2 linked regions of the Homo sapiens genome follow. The protein of the gene in region 1 purifies or fractionates together with the protein of each later gene. This does not show direct contact. Each region holds a gene or a part of one and is shown on either strand. Other genes may lie near its edges.

What was found. Proteins that work in one complex are often made in the same cells at the same time.
Region 2: the proteins of ZMAT5 (region 1) and CTU2 purify together in Homo sapiens (affinity purification with mass spectrometry; 2 studies listed by BioGRID and IntAct, with this or other methods). This does not show direct contact.

Annotation. Positions count from the first base shown.
Region 1 is NC_000022.11:29,735,017-29,740,452, forward strand, and holds part of ZMAT5 (zinc finger matrin-type protein 5), read right to left. Parts: intron 3,426-5,436; coding exon 3,314-3,425; intron 1-3,313.
Region 2 is NC_000016.10:88,709,359-88,712,699, forward strand, and holds part of CTU2 (cytoplasmic tRNA 2-thiolation protein 2), read left to right. Parts: intron 1-579; coding exon 580-658; intron 659-864; coding exon 865-924; intron 925-2,276; coding exon 2,277-2,337; intron 2,338-2,702; coding exon of another isoform or gene 2,703-2,915; coding exon 2,916-3,025; intron 3,026-3,263; coding exon 3,264-3,341. UniProt on the Homo sapiens protein: Plays a central role in 2-thiolation of mcm(5)S(2)U at tRNA wobble positions of tRNA(Lys), tRNA(Glu) and tRNA(Gln). May act by forming a heterodimer with CTU1/ATPBD3 that ligates sulfur from thiocarboxylated URM1 onto the uridine of tRNAs at wobble position.

The sequences.
Region 1 (5,436 bases):
TTGCTGCAGCACTGCCTCCAGGCTGGAGAGGGAGCCAGGAAGAAAGTGAGGTAGCCTTGCGGGGGCTGGGGCTGGAATCCACCCCCTCCCATTAAGCAGGGTAGGGGGTGTGGATGCAGGGGAGGGGCTCAAAGCCCAGGACGGAGGGAAAGGCTGCTAGGCTTCAGGAGACCAGCCTGCCCGGAGACAGTTATGGACGCCCAAGGCAGCAATGGCAAAAGCAGGAATAAACGGTCACCTCCCTTCCCACAGCCCCTTTTTCTCAAGGCTGGACAGGCCTGCTCTGCCTAGAGAACAATTCATTTTGGCCCCAAGCCCTCAGGAGGCAGGAGGAAGGCAGGTGGCAGATCCCCTGGAAGGGGCCAGGCTGGGTGGCCAGAGGGACAATGGCCCAGAGCACAGGGCTCAGACCCCCTACAGCCAAGGTGGGCTCCAGTTGCAGAACAATCATTCCCAAAACAGTCACTGCCATCAGGGCAGCCTGCTGCTGCCACTGCCACTACCCACAGCCACACAGAGCCTTGGGCCAGCCCTGAACTTGGTGTCAGAGGCAGCCTGGGGTCTAGACACAGAGCAGGGACCTAGCTCTCTCTCAAGTGAGGGCTAAGGGCAGCAGGGCACGTGTGATCAGGATGGCCCCACCTCCTGGAGAGGTTAAGATTCCTCAGATGCAAAATGGGGGTGCCAATCTCCCTGAATGCCCCCAAACACTGGGAACACTGTAAGCACCAAACTCAATTCTCATATGGTCACCACTTCAACCTGTGACTAGGAGCCAGTCATTCAGCCTCAGTTTCCCCATCTGGTACCCTAGTCCCCCAAGTCTCAAATTCATAGCGCCTTGTTTCAGCACAGGGATGCATCTGTCTGGAACCCAGGCAAGGACTCTGGGGCACCCCATCTCTACCCCACCCATTGGTGCTCACTCCAGTTCAGCCACAGGGACTCCATGAAACCTTGTCACAGCCCCAAGAGACAGCCGGGCCTCTGTGACTCGCTCCCAGCGGAGGACACCATGGACCCAGAGCAGGGAGGCGAGTGGCTGGTGCAACTCGGTTAGCAGGTGGCAGAGTGAGGATGGGACTCATAGGAGATCCTGTCCAAGTAGCGGTGCAGGGGCCAGAGCTTTCTGGGCAGCCTCCAACCAGCTCAAGCCTTTTGCACACGGGCTGAAGGAGTCTGGGGTGTAGGACGTGGATCCCTGGACAGCAACCAGTCCCAAAGGAGGTGCTCACATGCACAAAGACAGGATAGAACCCCTTTAGACGGGACCCTTCAGACAGGACCAGGAGGAGAGAATGTCACACTCCAACGTTTGAGTCATGTCTGTACCACATATACTTTTAAGGTGGGGAGACAAAAACTGAACACGGATTTAAAATAAAGGTAAAAGACAAAGTTAGTTTTAAAACACCTTTACTGGCTGGGTGCGGTGGCTCATGCCTGTAATCCCAGCACTCTGGGAGGCTGAGGCAGGTGAATCACCTGAGGTCAGGAGTTCGAGACCAGCCTGGCCAGCACAGCGAAACTCTGTCTCTACTAAAAATACAAAAATTAGCCGGGCATGGTGGTGCATGCCTGTAATCCCAGCTACTTGGGAGGCTGCAGCATGAGAAATGTTTGAACCCAGGAGGCGGAGGTTGCAGTGAGCCGAGATCGTGCCACTGCACTTCAGCCTGGGTGACAGAGCGAGACTCCATCTCAAAAAAAAAAAAAAAAAAAAAAAGGCTGGGCGCGGTGGCTGACACCTGTAATCCCAGCACTTTGGGAGGCTGAGGCGGGTGGATCAGGAGGGCAGGAGATTGAGACCATCCTGGGTAACATGGTGAAACCCCGTCTCCACTAAAAACACACAAAAAAATTAGCCGGGCGTGGTGGCGGGTGCCTGTAGTCCCAGCTACTCAGGAGGCTGAGGCAGGAGAATGGCGTGAACCCCAAGAGGTGGAGTTTGCAATGAGACAATTGCACCACTGTACTCCAGCCTGGGCGGTAGAGCAAGAATCCGTCTCAAAAAAAAAAAAAAAAGCCGAGTGTGGTGGCTCATGCCTGTAATCCCAACACGTTGCACTTTGGGAGGCCGAGGCAGGCGGATCACCTGAAGTCGGGAGTTCAAGACCAGGCTGGCCAACATGGTAAAACCCCATCTCTACAAAAATACAAAAATCAGCCAGGTATGATGGTGGGTGCCTGTAATCCCAGCTACTTGGGAAGCTGAGGCAGAAGAATCGCTTGAACCCAGAGGCAGAGGTTGCAGTGAGCTGAGATCACACCACTGCACTCCAGCCTGGGCAATACAGCAAGACTCCATCACAAAAAAAGAAAGAAAGAAAGAAAAAAAACACCCTCATAGTCTCTTTCACTGGAGCACAGAGAAGGCAAGAAGTTTGGCCTTCACCTCCTGGCAGAGCTCCAAGGGAAGGCCTCTTCCCCCAGACTATCTGGCCAGGTCCCCTTGGCCCAGGCCAGGCCACCATTTTGTGAAGCCACACCACAGAGGTAGTCAGGTCTGAAGCCCGTTGCAAGATGGGGAAAGCAAGGTAGTCGGGATGGGAAAACGTGTTCAAAGTCGCATGCGGCTCCTGGGCGCAGCTTTATCCCCTTTTCCTCCCCTCCCTCCTTCAACTGCTGGAGGAAGAGCCCAGGAGCTCAGGCTTCGGTTTTGGCCGCCAGCCTTTGTCTGCCCCTGCCTGCCCTGTGCCCCGTTCTGATGTGAATATCACCCGAGGCCCTTCCCTCAAAGAGGAGGACCAGGGACATCACGAAGCACACACCCCAAGGACCCCGATCCAGCAGCTCCCCTTCTACTTGTGAGCGTCCCGAGGGCTGGGGCCATCTCCAGACCCCCTTCCTTAGAAAGGCAGTGGGACCAGGACCTCGTCATCACGCCTGTGCAATCCCGGCTCTACATTTTCCCGTCTGTGTGCCCTCGGGCAAGTCGCACCCTCCCTGTTTTCCCTTCTGCAAGGCCCTAGAGGCAACAGTGGGCAGCAGTGCATGGTGACCACAGCCCAGGCCCCTCCCTCTGGCAACGGACTTGTGACTTGCAGCCAAATCAGCTCTGCCGCCTGCCTCCCCTCCAGCCAGCACAGACTCCAACAGGGGCCCAGCTTTGGGAGAGGCTCTTTCAAACACCCCTCAGCCTCTGGCCAGGGCCTGGGGCCCCAAGGGCTCCTCGGGGAGCTATGTGTAGGCAACTTTATTCGGCCCCTGGGCCTGGGCAGTTCATGGAGATTCCTGAGCCTCAGGAAGGGGAAGGCGGGCTGGGGTTTTGCCCCCAGGGGGCACAGCGGGAGGGAACCCTGGGGACCTGTACCTGCTACTTGGGGCTGAGCTCAGCCGCTTGGCTCTCTTCTCCAGCCAGTCCTCCAGATGGCCCTCGGGGAGCTCAGGAGCATCTAGTAGCCACTCCCTGGCTCGCCTCTCCTCTGTGGGGACAGGGAGACAAAGGCAAGTGAGGGGTACACTCCTGCCTGCCAGAACCCTACCCTCTCACAAAGCAGAAGCAACTGGTAGGCCCTGAGCAAGCCTGGGAAGTTGCAGCAACCTTCCAGGAGGATGCACCTGGACTGCTTCTCCAGGCCATCTGTGCACGAGGGCCCAGCACTCGGCCTCGCTCTGTTTTCCCATCAAATAGAGACAACCCCGGCTGCCTCCAAGCTCTTGGGGAGCTGGAAACAGGACAGTGCTTGTAGAGAACCTGGCCCTGGCCAGGCGTGGTGGCTCACGTCTGTAATCCCAGCACTTTGGGATGCCAAGGCGGGCGGATCACCTGAGTCCAGGAGTTTGAAACCAGCCTGGCCAACATGGAGAAACCCTGCCTCTACTAAAAATAAAAATAAAAAAAATTAGCCATGTGTGGTGGTGGGTGCCTGTAATCCCAGCTACTTGGGAGACTGAGGCAGGAGAATCGCTTGAACCTAGGAGGTGGAGGCTGCAGTGAGCTAAGATCGCACCACTGCACTCCAACCTGGGCGGCAAGAGTGAAACTCCATCTCAAAAAAAAAAAAAGAGAGAGAGAGCCTGGCCCTAAGGAGGGGTCTGAATCTGAGGTGCAGGGAGGCAGTGAGGGCAGTCGAATGGGGTCACATCTCAGCTCTGTCACCTGCCGGGTCTTTGACCCTGGGCAGGGTAATGAGCCTCAGCTTCCCTGGTTTTTATTCTCATAAGCTGTCCAACAAAACCTGTTGCTCAACGAATTAAAACCAATCAACGAATGGAATTTATACAAGCTGGGTGTGAGCGTTTGATGGGGTCAGAGTCGCCAAGTCATCTGGGATGGAGTCTTGGGCCAGAGGAAAGTAATCATACACTTGACTAGCACTCACTCAGAGCCAGGCCCCAGTCTCTGGAGCTCACTCGGGGCCAGGCCTCGGTCTCTGGAGCTCACTCGGGGCCGGGCCCTGGTCTCTGGAGCTCACTTGGGGCCGGGCCCTGGGCTGTACAGGTGTCATCTTGCTTCATCCTTAGAGACATCACATTCGACAGGACACAGCCTCCAAGAGGTTAAGCCACGTACCAAGGTTACAGAGGACGTGGCAGAGCTGGGACTGTCAGAGCTGCCAGCTGGGACTCTGTTCCCAGCCTCCCTGGGCCTCTCCCCATTCCTGTCCCCGCTCGGCATCGTCTCCAGTTCCAGGCCCACTGCCCCGTGCTCGTCCCACCATGGGCCAGCCGTCCTCTGAGAGCCCATAGCCAGGGAAGAGCTGCAGCTGCCGCTGCTGCCAGGACTTGCTGGCCAGTCCCACAAGGCCTTGCTTCCACCCTGGGGAAAAATGCTCCTGGAAACCCTGTGTTGGTCCCGGGGCTGCAGCCACAGCACCACTGGCTCCCAGGGCAGGGCACGGAGCCTGCAGTGTCTAACTGGTCAGAGGGGAGTGAGGCCCGTAGGGGGATCAGGGCAAAGGCCAAGCTGCCCCAGACCTTCACTGGCTACCCTGAGGCCTCCTGGACAGAGAAGCTTAAGGGGGCAGGCACTGAGAGACCTGGAGTCTGCCCCCAACCTGCTGGGGGGCTCACGCGAGGCCTTTCAGTCTGAATGTTGGCCTTAGTTTCCCCACCTGTTCAGTGAGAGGCTGTGGAAGAAGATTGATAAACACCATCTCAGTCAGAACTTCCTTGTTCTCTAACTAGAGGAGTGAATTTCCCAAAGGCGAGATGTCAGTTTCCATGGAAGCTGAACTTGCCCCTCCCTGGAATCACCAGGCTGTGAGACTCCAGAGGGCAGGGAAGGTGCGTTCCTAAACTCCTTATCCCTAGACTGTCGTAAGGGGTCTGCTTGGTGCCAAGTGGGGACTGGGTATGCTGCCTGATTGAGGAAGGGATGGGGTGTACCCACCAATGACTGCTGGGCTGGCCACAGGGTCCAGGTGGGGCTGAGGTGCACCTTCAGGGCTCCCAGGCAGGAAGCCACACAGGCTCCACTGTAAGGGGACACAG
Region 2 (3,341 bases), on another chromosome or scaffold:
GCCTCTTAGCCATTCCTGGCCCAGTTGAGCCCAGCACACTAAAGATGCCAGCTCTGGGGCCCCAGGATACTGAGCCCTCGCTGTGGCCCACCCCATTTCCGCACTTCACCCCAAAGAGGTGGTGTCTCTGCATGGTGGGTCCTCGCTGTGGCCCGCTCCATTTCCACGTTTCACCTCCAAGAGGTGGTGTCTGTATGTGGTGGGTCTTTTTTTATGGGGTCTGGGTTGGCCTTGCCCTGTACGTGCCTAAGTCTGTCCACTCCACCAGCTGGGCCCTTCTGAGCGCCTGTGGGGAGGGGTGCCGGGGCTCTGCCCTCGTTTGCTGGATGCAGCCTCCGTGGCTGTGCAGTTTGTACCTGGTCGTGGGAGGGGCCGGTGAGCCTCGTGTTCACCCTGAGGAAGCCACTGCCAGAGGGGCCAACCCCGCCCCTTTCACCAGTCTCTGGACAGAGCCTGGATGTGAAGATGCTGCTTTTAAAGATGGAGATTGGCAAAGGACGTCGTCACCTGGCAGCGCCTCAGGACGCTGCTCACTGTGCGGGTAGCAGGCGGTTCCCTCATCTCAGGTCTGTGTTGCAGGGACTGTTTCAAGGCCTTCTACGTCCACAAGTTCAGAGCCATGCTGGGCAAGAACCGGCTCATCTTTCCAGGCGAGAAGGTAGCGTCTGGGTCCTGGGGGTCTGACTGAGCAGCCTGGCCCCTCGAGGTCCCTGCTTGTCCCTCCCACAGGCAGCCTGGCCTGCTGCAGCCCGCCAGCTCCTCCTTGGCCTTTGAGGACAGACTCGATGTCCTAGATGTCCACGAGGTGGGGTGTCTGCCTGTGTTGGAGGTGCGGTGCCCTGAGTGATGTTTTTTCTCCCCCAGGTGCTCTTGGCGTGGTCTGGGGGGCCTTCGTCCAGCTCCATGGTCTGGCAGGTTCTTGAGGTGCGTGTTCACCACCCCGTGGGCCCGGGCTGCTGGGCTGAGCTTCAGGCTGGGGGCCTCCCTTCTCAGCCTGCTGAGGGGCTCTTGGTTGGGGCTAGAGAGCAGTCCACCCTGCGGCCTGGACACTTGGGGGGTTCTCAGATGTGTTCACAACAGGTGCACCAATCAGGAGCTGAGTCCACAGTGTGTGTGTGCGGCCCACTCTCAGATGTGTTTACAGCAGGTGCACAAATCAGAAGCTGGGTCCACAGCGCGTGTGTGCGGCCCACTCTCAGATGTGTTTACAGCAGGTGCACAAATCAGAAGCTGGGTCCACAGTGCGTGTGTGCGGCCCACTCTCAGATGTGTTTACAGCAGGTGCACCAATCAGAAGCTGGGTCCAGAGTGCGTGTGTGCGGCCCACTTGACTTCTGTCCATTTGCTCAACCTGCGTAGAAACACAGTCAGTGGAAAGCTGCATCTTGGCTCAGCCATGTGTGACCCGAGGGAAGATTGGGAAAGGGGCGGGGGTTTGCCAGGAGAAGCAAAGGGAGCAGCGTTTGAGGTGGAGGCGGCGGCCCGCGCAGGGAGGTGGAGGCGGGCTTAGGCTGCACACAGGGCTCGGCTGGGGGTGGTGGGGCTGTGCCCGTGGCCTGTCAAGGGTCAGCTCAGGAAGTCTGAGGCAGGTCGGGCTTCTCAGGAGGGCACAGGAGCGGGATGTGCTTGGTTTCTCTGCACTCTCATGAGAGGTGCAGACCGGAGGAGGCTGTTTCTGTGGGCTGGGTGGTTGAGAGGAGAGGGGTCGGCTTTGCCGGGTTGAGGAGTGGGGTGTTGGTCTCAGGATGGGCGCATGGCACAACACTGCTGAAATTAGTTTTCTGTTTTCTGAGGTCCCCTGAACCTGCCAGGAGGGTGTTGTGAGGGAACTGGCCCAGCCCTCTGTGTAACGCTGGTGCTGCCCTTCCTGTGCCCAGCGGCGCCCCTGCCTCTTGCAGGCTGTTGGTTTCTGCTTGTGAGAGCAAGTGCTTCCTTAGTGGTCAGAAGCGTGTGGGATGGTGGCACAGTGGCCCCGTAACCCAGCCCCCTCTCCTGGGGCGTTGTTGGGACATCCAGGACCAGCTGGTGAGGGGCATGTTTTACCAGGGGGATGAAGACCCCCAGGCTACCCTTTAAAATAAGTCGGGCGTGCGGCCTCGCCTACTGGGCCTGCCCGGCACCTGAGTCTGAATGGCTTTGTCCAATAAACGCAATGGCAGGGGAAGACCACTTCACCTTCCAAGATGGCATTAAATCCAGATGAAGAATGTTCTGAGCTGGAAAAGTGTCCTGTGGCTTATGGCTGGGGGCTGAGTCCCTGCTGCTTCTCCCTCTAGGGCCTGAGCCAAGATTCTGCCAAAAGACTGCGCTTTGTGGCAGGAGTCATCTTTGTTGACGGTATGTGGGGCCATTGCTCCTCCTAGTCCCTGGCCACTTGGGGTAAGCCCTGCGGATCCTCCCTCTGGTGTGGACCCTCCCTCTGGTGCCGGTCCTCCCTCTGGTAGGATGTGTTGAGCTACTGGTGCTGCCCCTGCACTGAGGGCCTGGTGGGGACATCTCCCTGAAGGAGGCAGCAGATGTATCCATCGTTAGGTGGCATCACTGTTCCTGGAATCTAAGAACATCCTTAGAAAGTCGGGGGTGGGAGCAGGAGTGGCGGCTGCCCAGCCCCCATCACGGGGTCTGGGGACAAAGAAGGGCAAGTTAAGTGCTGATGGTGAGCGGGGGCCCAGGGGCCGACTCCCCGACCCTTGCTCCTGCAGAACGAACTCCTGGGGTGTTGACTGTAGCGCTGAGGTCAGCCGCAAGAGAGAAACCCCTGCCCAAAGGAAAATGGCCGACACCCCACAGCTCCGCCAGGAAGCACCGCCCTGCGGAGCGAGGCCTCGAAGGGTTTTCCCAGGTGGAGGTGGCCCTGCAGCCTGCCCTGCCTGGCTCCTCTCTGAGCCCTGACTCTTTCTGCCTGGGTTTTTCAGAGGGAGCAGCCTGTGGCCAGAGCCTAGAGGAGAGATCAAAGACCCTGGCCGAAGTGAAGCCCATTCTGCAAGCAACTGGGTTCCCATGGCATGTGGTGGCCTTAGAGGAGGTGGGAGGGCTGTCCCTGGAAAGGGGTCCCGGAGGTGACCCCTGGGGGGCACCTGCCCGTGTCCCAGCCTCACTGGCCTCTCCCTCATCCCAGAAGGCGGGGCTGTCGGTGGGGGGTGGGAGGCACCTGCCCGTGCCCCAGCCTCACTGCCGTCTCCCGCATCCCGGAAGGTGGGGCTGTCTGTGGGGGGCACCTGCCCGTGTCCCGGGCCTCACTGGCGTCTCCCTCATCCCGGAAGGTGTTCAGCCTGCCACCGTCGGTGCTTTGGTGCTCTGCCCAGGAGCTGGTGGGATCCGAGGGGGCCTACAAGGCGGCC